Linked DNA regions of Homo sapiens: region 1 is linked to region 2. Evidence: fine-mapped expression QTL. A gene starts in region 2. The other region holds a variant in brackets. All regions are shown on one strand. Distances are between the middles of the regions.

Evidence for each region.
Region 1: its variant is fine-mapped to the expression of CHD5 in blood mononuclear cells (TOPMed, PIP above 0.99).

The regions. Positions count from the first base shown.
Region 1 is chr1:6,144,322-6,154,819 of GRCh38, reverse strand. It overlaps CHD5 (chromodomain helicase DNA binding protein 5), which reads left to right. Exons shown (of 42, transcript NM_015557.3): 5 at 1-160; 6 at 2,284-2,408; 7 at 3,665-3,788; 8 at 5,408-5,574; 9 at 5,745-5,966; 10 at 7,949-8,155; 11 at 8,397-8,608. Among named protein-coding and RNA genes, the nearest start is that of CHD5, 31 kb to the left of the region's middle. The variant G/A (reference allele first, on the strand shown) is at 6,674.
Region 2 is chr1:6,168,503-6,184,174 of GRCh38, reverse strand. CHD5 (chromodomain helicase DNA binding protein 5) reads left to right here and starts at 3,854. Exons shown (of 42, transcript NM_015557.3): 1 at 3,854-4,230. The coding sequence starts at 4,152. RefSeq lists enhancers at 4,597-5,096, 5,097-5,598.

The DNA of each region.
Region 1 (10,498 bases), 27 kb after region 2:
AGCGCCAACAACCCCTTCAAGGGCAGCTCCGCGGCAGCAGCGGCGGCGGCGGTGGCTGCGGCTGTAGAGACGGTCACCATCTCCCCTCCGCTAGCCGTCAGCCCCCCGCAGGTGCCCCAGCCTGTGCCTATCCGCAAGGCCAAGACCAAGGAGGGCAAAGGTAAGGCTGGGGTTGGGTGGGCACCTAGTCCCGCTGGGAAGAGGTCCCTTTCAGACCCTATAGGAGAAGCCACGGGGCAGACGCGGGCAGGGAGGGGCAGCTGGGGTGCTCCTAATGGAGGGCTCTGTGCCTGTGTGACCTTGGATTGCCCGGTCCTTTCTCAGCAGTGAGGCAGCATCGTCGCCTCTTTTGTGCCTGACTCCCTTTTGGGGTTGGTGGAGAAGCAGAGGCGATGATGTGGGCAGAGGTCTGGGAGGTTTGAGCCTGGCCAGCCAGGAGGTGCCCCCGACGTGGGCCTGGAGGGAGGGCGGGACCAGAGGTACGCAGAGTGGAGCCGCTCCAGCCTGGGTTTCTGGGAGTTGGCAGGCTCTTGGGTTTGAGCCTGTGCCGTTTCTGGGGAGGAGGAGGAGGCCCCAGTCGAGCCCGTCTCTTCTTCTTGTCTGCATACCCACTGTGTGCAGGGTTGTTCTCCAGGCCCTCGGCCAATGTGGAGCATGGAGGCCCTGCCCCTCCAGCTTTAGGATCCGGGAAGCAGGCAGGAGTTGGAGGGACTGGGCACGGCCAGGTCTCGCTTCCCAGGGAGGCTGTTCTGGGACAGGCCTGGAAGGAGATCGAGATCCAAATTCTGCCTCAGTGGCAGGGCGTCTGGGTGGGGAGGATGCAGGCAGCAGAGGCCCCCTGTGACTTGAAGGCCCTGGGGAGGGAGCTTTCTGGGTGCAGGTTTCTGGCCTTTTGGAGGCTGGGGATGTTGATCTCCCCAGGGCTGTCAGTCACCTGCAGCTCAGCTTTCCTGGGTGCCCTGATTTGTTTTGTTTTGTTTTGTTTTGTTTTGACAGACTCTCACTCTGTCTCCCAGGCTGGAGTGCAGTGGCACGATCTCTGCACACTGCAACCTCCGCCTCCTGGGTTCAAGCAATTCTCCTGCCTCAGCCTCCTGAGTAGCTGGGATTACAGGAGTGCATCACCACACCTGGCTAATTTTTTGTATTTTTAGTAGAGACGGGGTTTCACCGTGTTGGCCAGGCTGGTCTCAGAACTCCTGACCTCAGGTGATCTGCCCACCTCGGCCTCCCAAAGTGCTGGGATTGCAGGTGTGAGCCACCGCGTCTGGCTGATTTGGGTTTTGATGGAAGGGGCTGAGGGGGCTCCGGGGATCCCTTCTTTCAGCCCCAAGGAGCTTTAGTTTCTGGGGTTCTGTGTCTGGCATCACCATGCCAAGTCTCTGAAGGGAGCCTGGTGGGTGAAGTGACAAGGGTCAGAGTCTGTTCCCTGTCCTGCTCCATCTGTCTGGGCCATCAGGATCTCGGGAGGGGCTCCTGGCCCGCCCCTGTCTGCCCAGCCTGCCTTGTTTTCTCATTTCCTCTCGCGCTCCAGCTGCTGAGCTATCGATTCCATGAGCTGCTTATTCAGAGCTTGGAAAATTGAAATAGATTTTCCGCGGCGCCATGGAGGGTGCAGCTGGGCTCCTAGCTCCATGTCCGTGTGTGTGGTGTGGCCAGAGGACGGCCTGGGGAGAGGCTGCCTCTGTGGGGTGTGCATCCCTGCCTCCAGGCCCCCCTTCCTTCTTGGGTCATTACTCCCCAGGTAGCTAATTGCCCTGTGGCCAGCTCCATAAAAACAGCCTCAGCCCTGCTGGCCCTTGCTGGGGTTGACTGGCAGAGGTGGGGCAGTCTTGGGTGGGACCAGCATTGCCTGGCTGGCAGGTGGGAAAAGGCCTTTTGGCTCCAAGACATCCTTTGGGGGCTCAGGCATGGACCACAGGTGGGCGGCTGTGCCTTCAGTGGCCCTGCTGGCTGTGGGGGATGGCTAGTGCCTCCTTTCAGTGGTTGGAGACGGTATAGGGGATCCTCCCAAAAGGGCCACATTTCTGTGGGTCATGGACAAGGGGCAGCAAGGCGGTCAGGGCAGCCTCCAGTCAGAGCCGTCATCTGGTTTTTGCCTCACTTGCTGTGTGATTTTAAGCAAGGGGTTTACCTCTCCAAGCCTCAGGCATCTCATCTGAAACGGGGTGATGGTAGAAATGACCCTTTCCTTATTGGGTAACCGAGAGCTCAGTGAGATGATGGCAGGAAGCAGGCCGTCAGTGGTGGCAGTGGTTGGCTATCATCACTGCTGTTTTTCAGGGCCTGGAGTGAGGAAGAAGATCAAAGGCTCCAAAGATGGGAAGAAAAAGGGCAAAGGGAAAAAGACGGCCGGGCTCAAGTTCCGCTTCGGGGGGATCAGCAACAAGAGGAAGAAAGGCTCCTCGGTGAGTGTGTGCGTGTGTGCGCGTGTGTGTGCATTTGCATGCATGTGTGTCTGCACATGAGCACGCAAGGGCCAGGCGAGGGCCTTCAGTTCATTACAAACTAGCTGGGGCAGGTCGCACCCCTCCACTATTCTCCTTCCATCCTACATGCAGGTGTGCTGGGCCTCAGTTTCTCCATTTGTGTGATGAGGAGTTTAGATTGAATCCTTCCAAGGGCCCTTCTAGCCTGGACTCTGGGCAGGGAGTGCTCCCCTGGCTCACCCTCCTGAGTGGGAGCTCAGTCCTGGCTCCTGCTGTCCACAGCTGCAACTCCATTTGGGCAGGAGGTGGAGGGATCTGTCCTGGTGGGGCCTGGCCGCCCAGCACCCAGGTCTGCTCTCGGGGGGAGTAGTTGGGTGGGGGCTGGACCCTAGAGAAGTGGTATGTGGGTAGGATCAGGCTGGCTGGAGCCCCAGTTACCTCCTCCTGTCCTCAGGGCCAGCTCTGGGCCCAGGCTCAGACACTAAGCCCAGGTCTTACTCAGCCTTGGGGCCCCCCTTTCTCTGTGAGTGTGAGGGGCATTCGCCCTCCTCACCCCCACAGGTAGCTGCCTCCCTCACCTCACCCCAGCCCTGCGGTGGGTGGAGTTGGAAGCTCTTTCCCTGCACCATGGCAGGAGCCAGTGTTAGGTCTGGAGGGGAGCATGGAGAGAAGGTGTGGCCCGCCCTGGAGCTGACGGTCCAGTTCAGCTTAGCAGATATTTGTTGAGCACATACTGTGTACCAGGCCCGCTGCTCAGCCACAGTGGGCCGTGGTCCTGTAGCACTCGTCACCTGGCAGGCATGTTTGCTGGTGGAGAGCCCGTGATGTACCAGTCAGACAGGACAGGCCAGACCTGGCACACACGCAGCCACAGTAGGTCCAGTAAAGGAGAGATCTGGGAAGACTTCTTGGAGGAGGTGTCCCTAGGGCTGCCCCTTGAAGGATGTTTAGGAGTTTGGCAGGATGGAGGGCAAGGCCTGGGAAGCTGTTCAGAGGTGGAAATTGTGGGAAGTGTCTGAGGCTGGAGAGCAGGGCTCTGGGTAGGCGGTGGGACATCAGGCTGGACAGGCAGGCTGTAATGTGAGGTTTTCAGCTGTGTTGGGGGCTGAGATGAATCACAGAGAGCACTGTGTCTCCAGAGCCTCTTCCGTGCTTTGTCCCACCCCACACTGCCTGGGCCAGCGAAGCCTTCTGGGTGAAGCCCTGGGATCACAGGACCCTGTCTTCCCCTGCAGAGTGAAGAAGATGAGAGGGAGGAGTCGGACTTCGACAGCGCCAGCATCCACAGTGCCTCCGTGCGCTCCGAATGCTCTGCAGCCCTGGGCAAGAAGAGCAAGAGGAGGCGCAAGAAGAAGAGGAGTATGACTCCCCTTCCAGAGAGTTCTTGGCCTGCTGGGTGGATGTAGTGGGGCACGAGTAGGACTCCCCATCTGGACGGTTCTCGGCCTGCCGGGTGGATGTGCGGGGCATGGAACCTCCCCGTGGGAAGCAGGGGGAGGGCATCCTCATGTCTCAGCCAGGTGGGGCCCCTGTGTTTCCCACACGGCCCTGGTTTCTACTGTCTGGGGAGGGGCATCCTGTCCCAGTAAGGAAAGAACAAGGAACCTATGGTGGGAGCTACCCCAGGGCATTTGCATTAGCAGTGTGGTGACTGGAGAGGGAAGTGCTTCATCTCATCGCCATCCTCCCTTCAGTCACCCCCCACCCACTTAACACCCATCTTTACCTCACCTTCCTTCCCATCCCTCCTTCTCCCTCCTTCCCTCAGTCCCTTCTTTTTATCCATCCATCCTTCATCCATCCAGCCATTCATCCATCATCCATCATCAATCCATTTGTCCATCCATCCGTCAGCTATCCATCCACCATCCATCCATCCATCCATTCATCCATCCTTTTGTCCATCCGTCCGTCCGTCCGTCCGTCCATCCATCCATCCATCCATCCATCCATCCATCCTATCATCCATCCATCCACTTGTCCATCCATCCATCCATCCATCCATCCATCCATCCATCCATCCTTTTGTCCATCCATCCATCTGTCCATCCATTCATCCATCCCATCCATCCATCCACTTGTCCATTCATCCATCATCCATTTGTCCATCCATCCATCATCCATCCATCCATTGTCCATCCGTTATCCATTCATTTGTCCATCCATTATCCATTCATTGGTTCATCCATCCATCTACCACTCTGTCCATCCATCATCCATTTGTCCATCCATCATCCATTTGTCCACCCATCCATCCATTTGTTCATTCATCTATCCATCCTTTTGTCCATCTATCCATCCATTTGTCCATCTATGCATCCATCCTTCCATTTGTCCATCCATTACTCATCCATTTGCCCATCCATCCATCCATCCATCCATCCATCCATTTGTCCATCCATCCATCATCCATTCATTTGCCCATCCATTCATCCATCCATTTGGTTTATCCATATATCCATCCATTCTTTTGTCCATTCATCCATCTATACATCCATCTATCCATCCACTTGTCCATCCATCCATCCATCCATCATCCGTCCATTTGTCCATTCATCATCCATCCATCCTTCCATCCACCTATCCATCCATCCATTTGTCCATCCATCCATCCATCCATCAGTCCACCCATTTCCATTTGTCCATCCATTTGTCCATTCATCATCCATCCATCCATCCATTTGTCCATCCATTCATCTATCCATCCATTTGTCTATCCATCCATCATCCATTTATCCATTCATCTTTCTACCCATCCACCCACTCTCCTACCCTTCCTTCCTTCCTTCTTTCCTTTTATCCATCTTCTATCTCCTCACCCTTTTACCACCTCAACCATCAGTCTATTCACCCACCCACCTTTCCATCCACCCTCTATTAGACATCTACTCTGTGCCTGTCTGGCCTGGGGCGATGCAGTTGGTTGTGTGCTGGGAGTGTGGATGAGGACTTCCATGACTGCCTCTCCCCTACCCTAGTTGATGATGGTGACGGCTATGAGACAGACCACCAGGATTACTGTGAGGTGTGCCAGCAGGGTGGGGAGATCATCCTGTGCGACACCTGCCCGAGGGCCTACCATCTCGTATGCCTGGACCCAGAGCTGGAGAAGGCTCCCGAGGGCAAGTGGAGCTGCCCCCACTGTGTAAGCCTTGGCAGAGCCCCGGGCTGGGGGCGGGGCCACGCCTGGCTCCCCCACCCCTGTGCCCTCATTTGGGGGCAGAATGCGGGGAGATGCTGTAGGGGAGGGAGGGAGTCGGGCCTGGTGGAGCGGGGACCCCGCCCAGGGTGCCTCCACCTGGCCTCCTCCCCCAGGAGAAGGAGGGGATCCAGTGGGAGCCGAAGGACGACGACGATGAAGAGGAGGAGGGCGGCTGCGAGGAGGAGGAGGACGACCACATGGAGTTCTGCCGCGTGTGCAAGGACGGGGGCGAGCTGCTCTGCTGCGACGCCTGCCCCTCCTCCTACCACCTGCATTGCCTCAACCCGCCGCTGCCCGAGATCCCAAACGGTGAATGGCTCTGCCCGCGCTGTACTGTGAGTGTTCCGCCCGCCCCGCGCCGGACGCCCCGCCCCACCCCAGGAACAGGCCCCGCCCCCAGGGGAAGGCCTGCCCTCCTCAAAAGGCCCCGCCCCTGCCGGCTCCTGCCCCGCCTCGGTAGCCGATCCCGCAAAGCTTCGCCCGCGCTGCTCGAGACCCCGTCCACAATAGCTTCCTCGCGCCCTTCTCCGCGTCTGACTCCCCTAGAGACGGGAGGCATGAGTGTTAGGGAAAGGCAGACAGGTGTGGTGATCATGCCAACACCGCGACCACTGTTCAGTGACCACGTGCTCTGCAAGGGCTCCACATCCATCATAGTGTCCTTTAACATTACTGAGTATTCTGGCACCAGGCATGTTACTCCCTTTTTAGATGAGAAAACTGATGCTCAGGGAAGCAGAGTGACCTGCCTAAGGCCACACAAGGGCAGAACTATCCACTCAAATTCAGGTTCCTGGAGCCACCCCAGACCTGGCTCCTGTTCCAAGGCTGGGGATAGGGAGAGGGCAGGAGGCTTCTAGGGCAGGAGGCTCCTAGGGCGGGAGCCTCAGTTTCTACAGGAAGAGGGGCACCCCCCATCCGTCACCCCCCAGTCACAGTAGACATCGGAAGGCCCCTTGCTCTGAGCTGTCTGTCCTGCCCCCTGTGGTGCCAGATCCTCCACCCCTCAGGTCCTGGGCTGTGCCTCCTTTAGCCCTGGGCC[G/A]TCCTGTGTGCATTGTGCGTGTGTATGTGTGTGCGTGCATCCGTGCGCATACTTGTCTGTGTCTGTGTAGGGGCCAGGGGAGGACCCTTTTGAGGGGTGCAGCCTTCTGTGCTTTCCTAGGATTGATGGAAGGCCCTGGGGATGGGAGGGGGGCAGGAGTGGGGTTCCTCTCAGCTTCTTCCCTGAGGGGCTGGGATGGGGGTAGGAGGGTCCATGGCCTGGGTAGGAAGGGTCCCCTCTTCCACTCCCCCAAGAGCCAGTGGAGGAGCCTTTCCTGCCTCCCATGTCCTCCTCCTCCTCCTCTGCCTCTCGGCCTTTGCTGTCACCAAGGCCAAAGGAAGGCTGGCTGTGTGGTGTACCTTGCACCTCCAGAATGCCTTCAGGTGTGATGTGGCACCACAGATCTGGTAGGTGGAGGAAGGGGTGGGCCATTTTACAGATGGGAAAGCAGGCTCTGGAGGCTTGGATGAGTTTCCGAGGACAGGTAGTAGCAAAGCTGGGACCTGCTATCCCCACCAGAGCTGTCTCCCTGAATCAGTCACCCCCGACCCTGTCCAGTCAGACAGCACCGCCTCCTTGGAGGGCCAAGGCTGCTCCCACCCATCTCAGGGCCCGAGTGGTGTGGTTTGTGGCTGTTGTATTTCTTGCCTTTGCCAGCCAGCAGCTCACTGTCACCCTAGCATCTGTCAGGGCCCCTGCAGTGTGTCTGTGGGCTGCCAGAGATGGGGCCTCATTGTCCCAGCCTAGACGCACGGTGCCTGGGTGCAGCCCTGCCCCGGGTGAGGGATGGTGGATGGGGCTGCCGTGTCCCTGGGCTCCAGCACAGGGCTCATGCTCCCTGAGTGCTTGGGGATCACACAGTGATGTGACCTCTTTTCAGGGGGCAATGGGAAGACCTAAGGTAGGGGAAGTCCAGAATCTCATGTTCTGCTCCCTGCTCTGCTGTCCCTTGCCGAGTGGGCCTCAGTTTCCCCCTCTGTCCTATGCACATGGCAGTCTCACCTACGCTGGCTCAGATATTCTGGGTGCCGATAAGTTCACCATTGAGTGAAAGGGCCACGTGGTCTCACAGACCCCCACTGCCCATCTCCTGTGTGCATGACCCATGCGGCTCCTGGGGACGGGGTGGATGTCATGGCGTCACCGTGGTACTGTTCTGACTTGGGGGCAGTGGCACTGATGGGAGGGAGCCTGCATGGCAGCCTGCTGTCATGGGAGCCTCAGGGTGGGGCCCTGCAGCTGAGCCCCACCTTGGGGACCCTTCTCTGTCCACAGTGCCCCCCACTGAAGGGCAAAGTCCAGCGGATTCTACACTGGAGGTGGACGGAGCCCCCTGCCCCCTTCATGGTGGGGCTGCCGGGGCCTGACGTGGAGCCCAGCCTCCCTCCACCTAAGCCCCTGGAGGGCATCCCTGAGAGAGAGTTCTTTGTCAAGTGGGCAGGGCTGTCCTACTGGCATTGCTCCTGGGTGAAGGAGCTACAGGTGAGTGCCCGGGAGGGTGGCTGTGCTAAGGCCCGGGACCTGGTGAGCCCTGGACCCTCCTGGGCTGGCGGGAAGGGGCTGAAGCGCCTCTGACTGAGGGGTGCTGTTGGGAGTTGGGGTGGTGCTGAGCGGGAGGATTGTCCTGCCTGGGACCTGGGCTGGGGCTAGAGGAGCTGGGTAGGGAGATGCAGGGGACCATGGCCCATCTCCCTTCTGTGACTTTGTGCCGCTCCATGAGCAGCTGGAGCTGTACCACACGGTGATGTATCGCAACTACCAAAGAAAGAACGACATGGATGAGCCGCCCCCCTTTGACTACGGCTCTGGGGATGAAGACGGCAAGAGCGAGAAGAGGAAGAACAAGGACCCCCTCTATGCCAAGATGGAGGAGCGCTTCTACCGCTATGGCATCAAGCCAGAGTGGATGATGATTCACCGAATCCTGAACCATAGGTGTGTGCCTGCAGGCGGCCACCCTGCCCATCGCTGGGGCCGGGCCACGTCAGCTTCTTTGCCCTGTAAAATGGGTGCAGCGCAGGGTGCCAGGGCCCTTGCTTTGGGGCTGCCGTGCAGAACCACATGTGGGCACAGCAGGGGCACAAGGAAGGGCCCAGGGTTCCCAGTGCTGGAGATCTGCCTGACCTGCTAGAGGGGCCGTCCCATGCATGCCGGCACACTCATGCATACGTGTTCACACCCCTGGGGCGTCGGGACCCTCATGCTGGGTTAGTGCTTGATACCAGCAAGAGGGTTCTGAGGACGAGGGACGCCCGAGGTGTGGGAGTATGTCCACATTTCCCCCGCGTTTGTAACAGCAGCTGGCTGTACTGAGCACTGCCTACCCTGGGAGGGAGGCGTCTTACTTTCACCTCTGTTTTACTGATGTGAGAATAGGCACAGCAAGGTTAAGTCGCCAGAATCACACAGCCACGGGGTGGAGCTGGGATTTGAACCCCATGCTTTCTGACTGCAGGACCTGCTTTCTTAGCTACTGTTGCACCCCCCAGTGCCCCAGCAGCAGCTCTTCCTGGAGCAGTCTGGCAGTTCCCTGGGATGCCTTAGCAATCAGAGGCTGCAGGAGGCTGGCACAAAGAGCCAGAGGCAGGAGGCCCGTGGGCTTTGGTTTTGATTTGGTGGGTGGTGGGAATGCCTGCTGATTCTTGAGTTGAGGTGCTTGAGAACTGGTGGTGGCTGACAGATGGGCCTTGGGGTGGGGCCCAGAGTACCTGCTGCCTGGTGGCAGCTTGGAGCTTGTGCTCCCCATCCCAGCTACCCTGTGGCCTCTGTTTTTGAGGGGCTTAGGATCGGTGGCCTCTGACACTCAGTGCTTCTGGCTTCAGGCAGCTGTTGGGTAGAGCAGAGGTTAAAAGCCTGAGCCAGATGTTCAGATTTCAATCCCGGTTCCCATCTGCTGAGCTTTGAGGCCCTTTTAGGGAACAGGCTGCTGCACGGGTGACAGGAGCTTGCCAGAGGCTGGCTGTGGGTGGTCTTCAGTACGAGGGTCGCGGAATTTGAAAAACTGCCCCCCTTCAACTATGGGACACCCCCCTTTTCCTCCCCAGGCCTCCCTGAGAATGACCTTCAAGGGTCAGTTCCTGTGGGAACCTGAGCCCGGCAATGAATTGGCCCATGGTTTTCTACCTTTACTAAATTACATGCTAAAAATATACATGGTAGTTTTTCTCTCTGCCCCAAAGTGGGGCAGGTGAATCTCCCCCAGATTTGTTCCCCCAATCTGCAAAACAATCAATTATGTATGGGAAAACAAACAAACATCGGTTGCCGTGGTAACGGGATCGGTTTTTCTCTTAATGTTCCCAGGCCCGCAGCAGCCGCTGCTCACCGGGTCTGTGTGCCTCCTCGGCACTGCTGTGTGGGGTAGTCAAGCCCCAGCCCGGCCCTCCAGCACTCCTCTGGCCTGGTTGCCTTAGCCTGGGTGGGTGGGAGGCCCTAAAGACCCTCCCAGTGGCCAGAATCAAGCTGTGTGCTGCTGGGCTTGGTCACTGGGTCTTTGTGTCCCCAGAAGAGACCACCTCACACGCAGGAATTGCATCCTTATCTACTTTGCAGAGATGACTCCTCACCCTACGTGGGCACTGCACAAGTCCTTTGCGTATTTTAAGTTAGAAAACTGAGTCCATTGGCAGGAAGGAGAACTTTCCAACTTAGAAATCCAGAACTCCTGTGAAAATCCAGACCCTGTGACAAATGGGATTCATCCCTGCCACAGAGGCTGCAAAGGATGTGGGAGGCTGGCTCATTGCTCCTCTGTTAGCTGGCCTCCGTGTCCCTCTCCAGCTCTGCCACATCCCCCTCTCATTCGCTGTGTGGCCCCAGGCAAGC
Region 2 (15,672 bases):
CACTTGATTTCCTGGAGGGTGATAAGGACCCTGGTGATGGGGAATAATGGTCCGGCTGTTGAAGTCATTGATGTCAGGGGAGCCTGGAATTTGGTGTTGACACCTGATTTCACTTTCCATTTGTACATGGGACTCAGACCCTTAAACTTGTCAAGTATTGTAAACCAAGACCTCCCACAGGAGAGGGGGACCTAGGATGTGGGACAGTTACAGATCTGGCAGTTCCAGGGGACAGACCATCTCCCCAGTAACCCTTGGACAGAATACTGGGGTGACGAGTCAGAAGCTGCAGGGTAGGGGCACCACGGCGGTGAGAGATGGGCCAGGTCCCTGAAGGAGAGCCTGGGTTGGCACCTGCCCAGGTTGTTCGCTGAGTCGTGGTGATGGGCCTGTATTTAGTGGAATAAACTGTGGGGTTGATTCTCTTTGAGGGAGAAGAGGGTAGAAGAGAGGCTTGGTGTGGGGATTTGCCATCCCTGCAAGGAGGTAGCCCTCCACCTACAGGAAGGAGGTGAGGACTGCCTGTTAAACGGTGCAATCATAGTGCTTATCTCTAGGAACAGGAAACTGAATTTCTCATCCAGCCATTTTCTTGTCTTTGGGATGGATTTGAGAATACACATTCTTTTTTTTCCCCCAGGCTATTTTGGGCCCAGCTAAAACAGTCTGTAAAGGCTGTGCTGACCAGCGGAGTGAGTTAGCTGCCACCATAGCTAGAACCCAGAGAACACCCATAAAACGTTCTCAGGCTTACACAAGGATTTTCTCAGGTTCAGGGCCATGGCCCAGGGCTGCCTTTTTGAGAAGCTCCTTCCTCCCCTGCAACCCCAACTGATTTGAATTCAGGTGGTGCAGGGTCCACACTTTCGGAAAAAGCCTTCAAGTGCAACGAAAGTCTTGGTGCAGCAGGTGGGCACTGAGCCTTCATTGCAGAGGACACTGCGGTCCTGAGTGACGCCGTTTCACCCCTGCCGAGGAGGAGGTGTGGGGCAGAGTTTTGATCTATGTGACTCGCTGTGAGGTGGTGTATGTACAAGCACTTCATTGCCCTTGAGAAGCTGGTGGTGCCAGGTGGCCACAGCGTGGATATGCATTGTTGAACGAAATGGCCTCAGGCAGGCCTTGGGGGTTCCTGGATGAGGAGTTCATTTAGTCCTGGAATGGAAATTGAGTATGGTATGTGCAGAAGACGATGAGCTTTTTCCACTCTGTTCTTGGAAAAAGTTTTTTTTTTTTCTATTTTTGAGACAGTCTCGCTCTGTCACCCAGGCTGGAGTGCAGTGGCGCAATCTTGGCTCACTGCAACCTCTGCCTCCTGGGTTGAAGCGAATCTCCTGCCTCACTCGCCCGAGCAGCTGGGATTACAGGCGCCCGCCACCATGCCCGGCTAATTTTTGTATTTTTAGTAGAGATGGGGTTTCTCCATGTTGGCCAGGCTGGTCTCGAACTCCTGACCTCAGGTGATCCATGACTGCCCGCCTCGGCATCCCAAAGTTCTGGGATTACAAGTGTGAGCCACTGCACCCAGCCGAAAAAAGTTTTTTCCTTGATGCTTTTGTAACCGGTATATTAAAAAATATTTTGATTTTGGAATTGTCACTGAGGTGTAATTATGAGCTCTATGATCAGCAAACATGAGAATCTTGTCTCCTAAAACAGTAACCTTAATGATAGGCTTGTTCTTGCAACGCAGAGTTGCAAGTTTCAGGGATTGCTTTTAACGTCATGCATTTTTGGTCCGTTGTCATTAAAATACCCATTTAATAGTTTAACAATAATAAGGGCTCACCTTTAAAAATGACTGGAGAGCCGGGCATGGTGGCTCACGCCTGTAATCCCAGCACTTTGGGAGGCCGAGGCAGGCGGATCACGAGGTCAGGAGATTGAGATCATCCTGGCCAACAGGGTGAAACTCTGTCTCTACCAAAATACAAAAAATTAGCCAGGTGTGGTGGTGCGCGCCTGTAGTCCCAGCTGCTACTGGGGAGGCTGAGGCAGGGGAATCGCTTGAACCCGGGAGGCGGAGATTTGCAGTGAGCTGAGATTGCGCCACTGCACCCCAGCCTGACGACAGACACCATCTCAACTCCCCCCCTTGAAAAAAAAAACCCAAAAAACCTGGAGATTTGTAGTAAAAAAATCCATTTGTTTCTAGCATTCCAGTTTTTGTTTCATTTTGCTTTTGGACATTAAATAATATTACCTAGTTGCAGTCATCGGGAAGAACAGGATGGGGAGAGGATTATGACTGATGAGCATCTCGGCTCTAATTTGTTGCCAGATTAAGCAGTTAGAACTGTTCTTTCTTGAACGATATCTTGACTTTCAGCCTCGCCTTGGGAATTGGAGCCAGGGTTAATGATGGGGGCGGCTTTCTGGTGATGAGAAGTATTGTAAATCAGAGTTTTTCTACCGAAGGGCAGGGGACCTTTGAAAGGGATTAGAGAGGTGTTGGGGGGCTGGTAACTGAGGGGTGGGCGTGTCAGCTTAGGGCTTTCTTCCCTTGTTGGTCACCATTCATGGAGGCAGTTGGTCTGGAAAGAACGAGGAAGAGGCAGGTTTGGTTCAAGCCTCGGTGATCTGGGGCTCCCCCTGGCTAGCTGCTCTGTGGGGAAACACGGCCTTGGGAGGGGAGGCCCTTTGGTTTCCTGGCCTGCTTCCCTGAAGAGTGTTCCTTTCCCCTTGCAGGCGGCCAGCACTGGGCTGACCCGGCTTCTCTATCTACAGCGTAGTTAAAGCGGATCTGGGAGATGGAGGGGTTCCCAACACCCCAGTCTTTGGTTCCAGAAGGCTGGACCGACCTCTCCTTGCCCAGGGATGAATGCAGAGGGTCTTTTGTTTGGGGTTTGCTGGCAATAAAATTGAACGGGAAGAAGGGAAACTGCTGCCGATCCTGCGTGTCTCAGGTGGGTTCCCCCAGTGCCCCTGCGAGGCAGTGAGAGGGGGCCCTCCCTTCACGGGCCTTCTGGGGTTAGAGAGCTGGCGGTCGGCCAGCCCCTGGAACTTTTGCGTTCTTAAGGTAGCTTTAAGACTTGCCGCCGCGGAGACTGGAGGCGCTCATTTAAAATTCCAGTCTTGCTCCCGAGGGCTTTGGCCTCCATCTTCACCTTTAACGACCGAGGGCTGGTGGCGGCGGCTCCTTCCTGCTCTGCGACAGGTGTCGCTTCTGAGCGGGAGTTTTGGGCACAGACATCGCAGATCCGCACCACCCCTAGGGGTCTGCATGGGTTTCAGCTGCACCCAGCCTGGAGGGGCTTTTTGGAAGGGGGCACGTGGGCGGTGGGAGCGGGGAAGCAGGTGAGGGGAGCCCGCCTGCGCGGATTTTTCTGCTGTAAATCAGACCCACAGTCTCCAGAGCGTCTTTTCCCCAAGTGTGGAACACATTTTTCTTCTAATCCTCTTTGGAGAGGGGGTTAGGAACGTGCCGAGGCCGGAGCCGGGAGCGGGGTGGGTCCCGGCGCCTGTGAACCGAGTGGGGGAGCGGGCCGCGCGCTGCCCTGAAGACCCTGCCTCCGCGCCCTTGGGGGCTCGGGGCCCAGCGCCTTCGCAGGCGAGCGGCGGCGGCTGGCTCTGCCCGGGGTGCGCGGGGGCGGTGTTTCCTCGCCTCCCCCTGCGCCCGGGCTCGCCAAGCCCCGACTGCCCGCTCGGCCGTCGGGTCCGCGGGCGCGCGGACGCCTCGACGGCTCCCCCTGCCGGGGCGCCCCCCGGTCCCCACCCTCACCCGGCGGCTCAGGACTAGTCCCCCAACTTGTTCTCTGCTGTTAACTAGTCGCGCTGCCGGAACGATGGGATGGGGTTGCCACAGCAACCAGACTGGACGTCACAATCCGGGCATGTGTGCCGCCCCCCCGCCGTGCCGCCGTGCCTCTGGCGCTGCCGCCGCCACCCTCGGCCGGCTGCGGGACTCGGGCTGCGGGGCGCGGTGGGAGGAGCGCCCGGGCTTTGCGGGGAGCAGGCTAAGGCGGCCGAGAGAAAGGGGGGTCGAGACGGGGGGGTGGAGGTTTGGGGGGGTGGGGGGGCAGGCGGCCGCCATCTTCTCGCCGAGGCCGCCTCGCCCGCCGCGCGCGCCGGTCCGGCAGCGCACGGGTTAAGGCTGGCACCGCGCCCGGCGGGAGGGGGGGCGCCCACCTCCCCTCCTCCCCGCGCCGGGCATGCGGGGCCCAGTGGGCACCGAGGAGGAGCTGCCGCGGCTGTTCGCCGAGGAGATGGAGAATGAGGACGAGATGTCAGGTGAGCGGGGCGCGGGTGCGCCTGGGGCCAGAGCGGCGGGGGCGCCGAGACGGGCCGGGCCCAGGGCGGAGCGCGGGCGGCGGGGGCGGCGCGGCCGGGCTGGCGCCTCGCAGGAGGGGCACCCGGGTTGCGGGGCTGCGCTCCCGCCCTGCTGGCGCCGCGCGGCCAAGGGCGAAGGCTGGGTGAGCGCCCGGGCCGGCGTGAGGGCGGCTAAGGGCGGGGTGCGATCCGGGCCCCCCGGGCGGCGACGCGGGCCAGGCGGGCCAGAGGACCGCGGGCCGGGGCCTGCGCTGGGGGGCGCGGCGCTGTCAGGGTCAGCCCGCGTGCCCTTGAAGGGGGCGGGAATCGCGCTAGCTCCCGGAGCGGCGCACCCCGCGCTCGCGTCCCGCCGCCGTGCGCCTCTGGCCTCGCTGCGGGCAGGCGGGACCCGGCCCCTGGCCCATGTCGGCCGCGGGGCGGGCTGGGTGGGGCCCAGAGAGGGGCGAGGACCGGCGGTGCTTGGGGACGCGTTGAGCGCCCAGGATGGGGCGGCTTCCCTCCCGGCCCAGGAGGACTCCGCTCTGGGACGCACGGGCTCGGACCCCTGCTCCTCTTTCCTGGCCTCTGTGCGCTGTGACCGCCGCTCCCAAGCACTTTACCCGGGCCGCCGGCGTCCTTCTGGCGCGACCTAGCGCCCGCCGCTGTCTCCAGCCTCACCATCGCCCAGGGTGGTGGCCGTTCCCAGCCCACCCTGCCTTGGCTACGGGCCTGACGCCCCAGGGCCACCGCCCCTGCCCCTACCATCTCTCTCCTTTTATCTCTCTCAGAATTTAGTATACACAGGGCTGTGCGCCAGGGGTTGCCTTGCGGGACAGTTCTTTAGTTAACTGCTCACCATTTGTTTGGGACGTTTTCCCTCCTGGCACAGCTGGGTAGGGCCCCACCCTGTCAGCCACCCTCCCTCCTTTCTGGGAGACTCTTACTTCTCGGCTTCCCTGCGCCAAGTCTGTGGCCTCTCTGGACTTCGGAGAGACTTGTGGGAGGCTGGAGGCCCTCCCGGGCCCAGGAACGTGCATCTGGCCCCTTCTGACTTCCAGGGGTGAGAAGACTCCACAAATGGACACCTCCAGCTCCTGTTGGAGGAAGCAGCCAGCGTCTTCTGGGGAGGGTATTCCCACCAGGTGGCCACACCCCCTGCCCCCTTCTGTTTGCTTGCTTGGTTAGTTGGTGGCTTTAATGCTGTCACTGAGCTCCTACAGGAGCCCGGCACTCACCTCGCCTGTTAGACAGGCCAAGTTGGCAGCGAGCGTGCTGGGGACGGGGAATAGGGGAGTCCTCTCTTGGGGTGGAGTTGCCTGGACAATAGTTGACTGTCATATCCTGGGTCCTTGGAATTAGACCCATTCTCCGGAGGGGAACTCTGAGGCCCCGCACAGGCACAAAAAAAAATCAGTGGCCATTTTCCACCTAGGAGGCTGGCTCCCCAGTAAGCCAGTTTACTGGTTTTCTCAGCAAGTTGTTTGTTATGGTGTTTGGGGTGTGGCCCTTTTGTGGGATCAGTGGCATTTCTGGGGTTGCACCGACCCGCTGGTGGAGTCCCCTGGCTGTCTTTCCCATCTTACACTCCGGCTCTCTCTGACTATGTGGGGACTTAGAGGTTGGGGAGGGGAAGAGGCCAGGGAAGGTGCCCCCAGTCTAGTAGGCACCCGACTCACTGCTTGGGCCAGAGAGGCGGGGCTCTGGTCATCCTGCCCACCACCCGTGCTCCCCCTCGGTGGGTTGGCCCCAGAGCCTCCAGGAGTGCCCCCAGAGCCCTGCAGAAGAGACGCCCTGCTCTGGCACCTCTGGCCTGGGGATTCTGTCCCCATCCATCAGCAAGGCCAGCTGCTCCACCTCCAGAGCCTTTCCAGGCTCCTGGCTTCTCTCCATGTTCTGGGTCCAAGCCTCTGTCCCCTCCTGCCGGTCCCCTCCAGGGCCTTCTACCCACTCCTTCTGACCACCCACTGCACAGCAGCTGGGGTCACCTCGTGAACCCAAGTCAGATCCCGACCCGCATGGCTCCAGTCGCCTCTGAAACCCTTGTCCCGGGTCCACTCCTGTACCCCTTTGTTCACAGCAGCCACGCTGGCCTCCTTGCTGCTTCTGGAACACTCCACGCTCCACGCTCCATCCTGCCATGGGGCCCTGGCTGTGACCTCTGCCTGACCTGCTCTTTCCTCTGCTCACCGCTGCCTCCTGGTCATTTAGGTCCCAGCTCGAATGTTATGATGGGGAGGGACACCCTTGCTAAGGGCCTTCCAGTCACTCTGAGACACATTGTCATGCTTTCTTTGGAAGAGATGGGGTCTTGCTGTGTTGCCCAAGCTGGATTTGAACTCCTGTGCTCAAGCGATCCTCCTGCCTCAACCTCCCTAGTAGCTGGGACTACATGCTTGTGTCACCACACCTCACATACTCGAAACGTTGTCATCAGTTTCCTCCTGGATCTGTGGGTTCCCCTTCGAATGTAACTCTCGATAACCTGCCATGCCCAGCACCTGAAACCATGCGTTCCTGAGAGATGGTTGTGGTTTCAGTGTCTGAGGGCTGGGACTCTCTAGGTCACCCCAGCTTCTGGCTGTGAAGACAGCCCTAGCCAGGCCTCCTGTCAAGTCGCACTGCTGGCCCCCCACTCACCCTGAGCTCTTCCTCATAGCCCCTATGCAGCCCTGAGTCCAAGCTCAGTGGCGGTGACCCCCAAAGACCAGAACCAGCTGGTTCCAAAAGATGGAAGTTTGTGGCTGGAGGAGCTAGTGTTTTGGAAGCTGTCATGATGATTTTTCAGTCTACGGCTATTAAACTCATGACTTGTCCGATCTTTTTTCTTTGACTCTGCTCATCTCCCACCTCCCCCTGGGAGTTGCTCACTCTCAGCAGTGAATTATTGTTTCCCGTGCAGTGATGGTGGGGAGGGGGAGGTTTGCCCTGGCCAGCTCTGGCATTGAGGCAGGTGTCTGAGCCAGCTTCTAGGAGGAAGGCAGGGCGGGTGCCTCTTCTGGTTGGGGGACCAGCAGTTGCCAGATTCTCCTGGGAGTTGGGGTGGCTGGTTGAAGCCAGGGGTCAAGAGCTGGTGGGATGAGGCCTTGGCTTCTAGCTCTGAGCATTAGCTGAGTGGTCTTGGACAAGCCAGGCAGCCCTCTCCTCGGTGTGCCCACTTGTAGTATGGGGACATAGCACTGGCTACCTCATAGAGGGTTATTATGAGGAACAGTGAGACAGTGCATGTGGAACATTAGGCCACAGTGCCCAGCACATGATAGGTGCTCAATAAACTGTGGCTGGTGTAGTTAGCACCAGCCAAGGAGGGCAGCTGTCCTGCCTTCTCCAAGGAAATGCTTCTGATACTTGCATCCTTAGCCAGTAAGCTCAGGGGAGTAGGAGCCTGGGTGGGAGGAGGGCTGTGAAGCCCAAGGTAGGGGTGGCAGGAAGCAGGAGAGGGCTTCAGAAAATGTGGCTCTCAGCCCTCTTAGGGCCACTGCTGGGCTGGCAAATTCCCTGCCTCATTGGCCCAGCTTTTCCTCAATCACAGACAAAGCTAGTGAGCCCAGAATGGGCAATGTCTGGACTAGGCACCGTTACCTCTCTGGCCCCAGTGACAATTGGCCCTAGATGTGTAAGTATCTTAGGCTTGCTTCCTCAGGTCCAGGGGCCAGGAGAGAGTGACAGTCATGATTCCCAAAAGGCCATGACATTTTAGCCTGCACCCCTACCCCTGTGGAAGCATGGTTTGGTAGGGGGGTCCCAGGGAGCCTGATTGTATTTAACATTCTTTTCTGGGAGGAGGGAGACAAAATGACCAGCACACTTTGCCCAGTGGCTTGGCCAGTGGGTTATTCATTGTCATTCCAAGTTGATCAGGTAATAGGATCCATCTATCATTTTATCAGTTCATTCAGTCGCTCACCCATCATCCATCCATCCATCTACCTACCCACCCACATCTACCCATCCACCTACAAAACCAACCAAGTAACCGTTCACCATCCGCCTATCAATCCATATCCATACCATATCCATCCATCCATCTGTTCTTCCTATCCACTATTCATCCATGCACTATTCGTCCATGCTTCCCACCATCCATCCATCCATCCATGCATCCATGTATCCATGTATCTACCTGCTCTCCCACATCTACCCGTCGACCCACAAAACCAACCAAGTAACCATTCACCATCCACCTATCTATCCATATGTATATCCATCCGTCCGTCCGTCCATCCATCCATCCATCCATCCATCCATTTGTTCTTGTTCTTCTTATCCACTATTCATCCATGCACTATCTGTCCATGCTTCCCACCATTCATTCATCCATCCTCCAATCCATCCATCCACCATTCATTCATCTGTCCATCCACCATCCACCCATCCACCATCCATCCATCTGCCCATCCACCATCCATCCATCTGCCCATCCACCATTCATGCTTCCATCCATTCATCCACCACCCACCATCCATCCATTCCTGTACCCACCATTCATCCATCTATCCACCCGTCATCCATCCATTCATCTATCCACCATCCATCCATGCATCCATCCACCATCCATCCATGCATCCATCCACCATCCACTCATCCATTCATCCACCATCCATTCATCCATCCACCATCCATTCATTCATCCATCCACCATCCATCCATGCATCCATCCATCCATCCACCCACCATCCATCCATCAATCCACAATCCAACCACGCATCCAACCACCATCCACTCATCCATTCATCCACCACTCATTCATCCACCCACCATCCGCCCACCATCCATCCATCTGCCATCCATCCATCCACCTATTGTCCATCTATTCATCAATCCACCATCCATCCATGCATCCATCCACCATCCACTCATCCATTCATCCACCATTCATCCACCCACCATCCATCCATCATCCATCCATTATCCATTCAGCCATCCATCTGCCATCCATCCATCCATCCATCCATCCTTCATCCACCATCCATCCATCCACCCACCCACCATCCATCCTTCATCCACCATCCATCCATCCACCCACCCACCATCTATCCATCCATCTATCCATTCATCTTTCATCCATCCATCCGTCATTCATCCATTCATCCATTTATCCATCCGTCCATCCTCCATCTTCCATCCACCATTCATCCATCCACCCACCATCTATCCATCAATTCATCATCCATCCATCAATTCACCATCTATCCACTTATTCACCATCCATCCACCATCCATTCATCCATCCACCCATCCACCATCCATCCTTCCACCCACCGTCTATCCATCAATTCATCATCCATCCATCTATTCACCATCTATCCACCATCCATTCGTCCATCCACCCATCCACCATCCATCCACTATCCACCCATCCACCATCCGTCCAGTGTCCATCCATCTGCCATCCATCCATCCATCCATCCATCCACCCACCATCCATCCATCTATCCATCCATCTACCCACCATCTATCCATCAATTCATCATCCATCAATCTATTCACCATCCATCCACCATGCATTCATCCATCCACCTATCCACCATCCATCCATTCACTATACAATTATCCGTCCACCCATCAGAGACTTCTGGAATATCTTCTCTGAGCTGGGTACTGAACACAATGTGTGTTGTCTAACTTTCTGGGCTTTTGCTTATCTCTGTGGCTCTGTCCTTATTTCACTCTCCTTCCCTGTCTCTCTCTCTCCCTCTGTCCCCATATCTGTCAGTTTTCGTCTCCCCTGAGGTCATGCCCCTGCCTCTCCCTTTCTGTCTGGCCGTTTTTCTCTCTTTTGTCCCTCCCTGTCCCCCCAGGTTGACTTCCCCTCTCACCATTCTGTCCTCCTCCTCCCCACCCATGCCCTGGGCCTCTCCCTGCTTTCCCTGCACCCCCAGGGTGACTCCCCCCAGGCCCCAGTCACTTGGGGTAAATGCCTCATCTATCCCCGTCTCTTCCCTCCACTCCCCACTCAGGACTGATGCTTTCTTTTGATGTGACACCAATGAGGTGATGTCTGGGTTTTGTTAAATGTCATAAATAAATTATGAATCCTCTCTTGGGCGGTGTACTGCCCCCCTTTGCCAGCATAAGCCCTGTCTCATGGGGGGAGGTTCGAGGACTAACGGCAGCCTGAGAACTCCTTGGCCAGCGTCTAGGGTGGCCCTGAGAACCTCTGGCCCAGCAGTGGCCAAACTAGAGACCGCTGCCCTCTGCCCTTCACCACTGCCGCCCTGACCCTCCTGGGTCTCGCTGGGCTCTGCCTGCCATTGCTGAGCCCCTGCAGGCATCGTGTGGGTCCTTTGCATTCACAGTTTTTACTTCTCCCCATAGCCCTGGGGGAAAGGCTGCCACATTAGGCCCATTTCACAGATGAAGAGAGAGGCTCAGTGGGGAGGGGACTTGCTGGTATCACCTCCAGGAGGGGTAGCTTGAAGCCTCTGCTGCCCCTGTTGCTCCCTCCTCCTGACCTCCTGGTGGCCTTGTTCTCTGCTTGTTGCTGGTTGGGGAGTCCAGGTGGGGAACAGAAATAGCCCCTCTCGGCCGGGCGCGGTGGCTCATGCCTGTAATCCCAGCACTTTGGGAGGCCGAGGCGGGTGGATCACGAGGTCAGGAGATCGAGACCATCCTGGCTAACATGGTGAAACCCTGGCTCTACTAAAAATACAAAAAATTAGCCGGGTGTGGTGGCGGACACCTGTAGTCCCAGCTACTTGGGAGGCTGAGGCAGGAGAATGGCGTGAACCTGGGAGGCGGAGCTTGCAGTGAGCCGAGATCGCGCCACTGCACTCCAGCCTGGGTGACAGAGCGAGAGTCCGTCTAAAAAAAAAAAAAAAGAAATAACGCCTCTCCCCAGGTCCTGGAGAGAGTGGTGGACATTGAGTGGGGTCCCTGTCCTTGGCAGGTTTGCCGGCCTTTGCAACCTGGTGATGGTGTTCTCGTCCCAGCTCCTGGCTTGGCCCCTGCAAATCCTTCAACCACCCAGAATCAGATGACCTAACTTTCGCTCCACAGTCACGCGCCTTCCCCTTGTTTTGATCACCTTGTGTTTGCCAAGTGCCCTGGCGGCTGCGTCCTTGCTCTGCTGCTGCCCCTCCCCAGAGGAGTGAGGGGCTGGAGCCTGGGTCTGGCAGAGCTGTGGGGCTGTGTGCAGGGGGACTAGTGTGGTGAACCAGCCTTGACCCCCTTGAGGGACCTGTGACCTGCCAGACCACAGACCAGCCTGAGTCACCTCAGTGTCCCCAGGGCATCCACCGAGCCGGTTTACACAGCGTGGGCTGTTTCAGTGGGAGGGTGCTGGGGGAGAGACTTCGCAAGGGGGTGGGCGCCCACTGCCTGTGTTCAAACAGTGGCAGCTTCACCACTGCCAGCTGTAGGACTGAGATGTAGGTAAATAATGAGGTCCTTTGAGCCTCAGTTTCCCAATCTGCAGATGGGGATAAGAATAGAACCCTGAGCCAGGTGTGGTGGTTGTGCGTGTTGTCCCAGCTGCTCAGGAGGCTGAGGTGGGAGGGTCGCTCGAGCCCAGGAGGTCGAGGCCTGCAGTGAGCCATGATCATAACACTGCACTCCAGCCAGCGACTCTGTCTCTAAAATAAATAAATAAATAAATAAAGCCCCAAACCAGAAAGAATAGTACCCCTCTCTGAGTTGCTGTGTTGAACTGATACAAATTAATCAGTCCTAGGTACTTTGGGCCTGGCACGAGCCTGGCAGGTGGTATGCAGTTATCACGACTGCTGCTATTGCAATGCGCTACCCTGAGAAGGGCCCACCTCATCGGCCTGGCCGCAGCCTGCAGTGGCTCAGCCTAGGCCAGCCTGGGGGTCCCACAGGGCTGAGCTGGCGCATACTGGGAGCTAGAGAGGGGCTGAGGGAGCTCTGGAGAAAGCAGCAGAAGGTGCCTCTCCTTCCTCTGGTCGACTTGAGCCCCACCCCGCCTCCACCCCCAGGAGGTGGGTGATCACAGGGTAATGGGTCTTAATTAGAGCAGGCTTGGATCCGTGGAGCCTCAGGCCCTGGAGGGTTAGGGCTGGTGCATGAGGGCACTGCCAGGTGGGCCAGGAGGGTGGTGGGGCAGCCACGAGGGGCCAGGAGCTGGCAGGACAAGGAGTTCTGAGGTGAGGTTGCTCCTCCCTGGAGCCCCTCACCCGGGACGGGCAGGATGCCACCTTAACACTGGCTGCATGCTCTGCGTCTTGGAACCCTCTGGGCCTCTGCTCTGTCCCCACCAGATGGAGCCATAGGGAGGAGGGACTGGTGGGCTCAAGGGCACAGGCTGGGCTTGGGGAAAGGCTGACCGTGCAGTTGCTTGTATGGTGACCCCCAGATCTGGTTTTAGAAAGCTCAGGACCTGCTGCGGGAGCAGAGAGTGTCCAAGGGCAGAAAGGGGCTGGGGCTTGGCTGAAGACGGGAGCGTGTGAGGTGTTGGGGGGGGCAGTGTCATAGAGAATCAGGCGTGTGGTGACCTCAGGGCCACCCACCAGAAGCCATCTGGGGAGAGGAAGGGCCCATCAGAGACAGGGTTAGGCAGGGCTGAGTCCCCGTCTCCGTGTGCCAGTTCCAGAGCCTTCTCAGAGGTGGGTTTCACCAGGCAGAGGCCCTGGGCTGTGAGGTCTTCTGGGAACGGAGCTGGGGTCTGTCCATGGGCAGAGGGTCTGGGGCCTTGTCCTCGAAGGCCTGTTCTGGGCGTGGGTTAGGGCCAGAGCAGGGGTCCCCCTTTGTCCTCCCCTTACCCACGGGCAGATCCCAGACTTCCTTCCAGAACTTCTGGCAGCCACCTGTGCATACCCTCATCCGTTCTGTTGGTCAGGCCACCAGTCAGTGACCATGTGCTGGGCTGGGTTTCCTAAGTCTGGGACCACCCTGCCGGAAGGGGACAGCTGGGAGGAAGCAGGAGGGAGAGGCCCCCCCTCGAGATTGCATCAGCCAGAGCCCGTTACATAAGCAGTGCTGGGCACCGCCAGGGTGTGGGGGTGGCTCTGCCCAGGCGGTCTCCTGCGGTGGCGGGGGAGGCGGAGGCCCGGTGGCAGAGCGGGCAGTTGTGGACTGGCATCCCATCGGCTGCCCCACCACAGACAGCTCCCCGCCAGCCCTGCCACTGCCCCACCGACACCTGCTCTGCAGGACGACTCCGAGGGGGTCCCCGTGCACGTTTTCAGCTGGTTTGAAAAATCCCCGCCTTTCCACACTAGTGATCAGAGGAATGGGGTGGGGTCAGCCGGAGCAGCCCAGCCCCTGCCCCTGGCTGCTTGGGGCCTCACCCACATAAACCCACCTGGGGCGGCCCTTGCTGCTGGCTCCCCTGTGTGCCCTAGCCCTCCACAGGGTGCCCTCCCTGTGTGGGAGCCCCAAGCACCTGGCCACCCTTGAGGGAGGCCCTGGTGCAGAGAGGCACCAAGACAGTGGTGCAGCCCCCACCTTCCACTGGTGCAAACACCTTCCACTGGTGCACATTGGCCCCGTGGGATGCAAGGGTGGGAGGGGCGTCCGCTCAGCCACCAGAGCCCCGGTGCCCCCGAGGAGTGGGGACAGTGGGGCTAAAGCTGCACCCATAGTGTGGGCCATGGGAGCCCCAGAGACCCAGGGTAGGAGCCCTCCTGTCCCCCTTTCCCCGCTTAGGACTCTCTGGGGGTCCCAGGCCGGGCGGTGGGGGCCTGTGTGGAGGGTGACAGGTGAGTGTTGGGTGCACATGCATGTCTGTGCGTCTGCATGTGGCGAGTGTGTCTGAGCGTGTGGGCCACACTGGGGGTCGCCTCGAAGCCCTTTTGGTGACCCAGGGGTCACCAGGGTCACCAGACTGCCTGGGTTCGAACCTGGCTCCAACACTGCCAGCTGTAGGTGGTTATGATCAAAAACTTCCTCGGGGGAAGGGGCTCTCTGTCTCTAAACTTGATCCAGCAGGGACACTCTGCCCCCTTCCTGGGTGAAAGCCTCCTGGTGGCCCCAGGACCTCTCGTCCTCCGCGGGGTCCCACTGGAGGCAACCCTCAGGCTCTGAGTGACACTCCCTGTTGTGTCTCCACTGTCACAGAAGGTCAGGCCTGGGGTGTCCATGGCAGAGGGTCTGAGGCTGAGGGGCCTCTCTTTGCCCCTCAGCTTCCCCTGAGTGCTCCTGAGTGCACAGGGGATGGTGGAGAGCGAGTAGGACAAGCTGGCTGGGGCGCTGGGGCCGCAGGCTGGCATGAAGGGCCGGCTCTCTCGTGGGCCCTTCTAGAGGACTCTTGGAGGTTCTTCCCTTCTGGAAGCCTCCTTTGCCCCCACGGGCAGAAGTGTCTCTACTTTGGATGGTTTGATTCTTGCTGCTGTGCCTGCCAAGAGGACCCTCCCCACAGCCCCTCCACAGCTCATATCTGGTGCGTGGGAACTCCTTTTCTCTATCCTGATTTCCCAGATGAGCGTCAGACCCCAGGCTACTGCCGTCCCAGCAGGGGTCTCACGTCACACCCCCCAGGACATGTGGCAGCCCTTCCTCTGGGTTGGAGGTTGAGGGAGGCAGACCTGGGACTGTGGCCAGTGTCGTCAAACATACTCCCTTCCCGAGCCTGCCCGGCCAGGGCCCCCTCGGCCTTTCGAGTCAGTGCAGGTGAGGTGAGTCCTGAACACCCACGTGTGCTGGGCACGGCGTCTCTCTGTGGACTGTCACAGCTTTCTAGTGCCCAGCTGGAATGCGCTTGGCTTCCCGTTGTGAGTGTGTTGGAGGTGGGGGAGTGCGGACCTGTGTGCCTGTGTGTGCACAGGTGCGGGATCCACGAGGAGATACGATATGGTCTTGGATTCTCCATTAAGGTGGCATCCTCTCAAACCCATGGGGTATCCTGGCATCTTCCTTGCTGAGTTTGTCCTGCAAACCCCTGGGGTCCTCAGGTTTGGGGCTTGAGTGTCCCTGTGCTCCACAATTCTCTCTCTCTCTTTTTTTTTTTTTTTTTTGATGGAGTCTCACTCTGTTGCCCAGGCTGGAGGGCAGTTGTGCGATCCCAGCTCACTGCAACCTCCACCTCCTGGGTTTGAGCGATTCTCCAGCCTCAGCCTCCCGAATAGTTGGAATTACAGGCGCCCACCACCACGCCCAGCTAATTTTTGTATTTTTAGTAGAGACGGGGTTTCATCGTGTTGGCCAGGCTGGTCTCAGACTCCTGGCCTCTGGTTATCTGCTCGCCTCAGCCTCCCAAAGTGTTGGGATTACAGGCGTGAGCCACTGTGCCTGGCAGGTCCAGCATTCTCGAGCCACCTCCTGGCCACACTGTGGTCCTCTCTCTGGAGGGAGAGATGGGCCTCACTGAGGTCTGTACTCTGCTCTATCAGCCCCAACTCCTTCCTGGTAGAGATGCTCCGTTTCTCCGGCAGTGATGGCAACAAGGCAATTCTGTTTGTTGTTCATGGAGGTTCAGTTTTCTGAACACTGTCTTATCAGGGGCAGGTGGTTATTGTCCCATTTACAGAG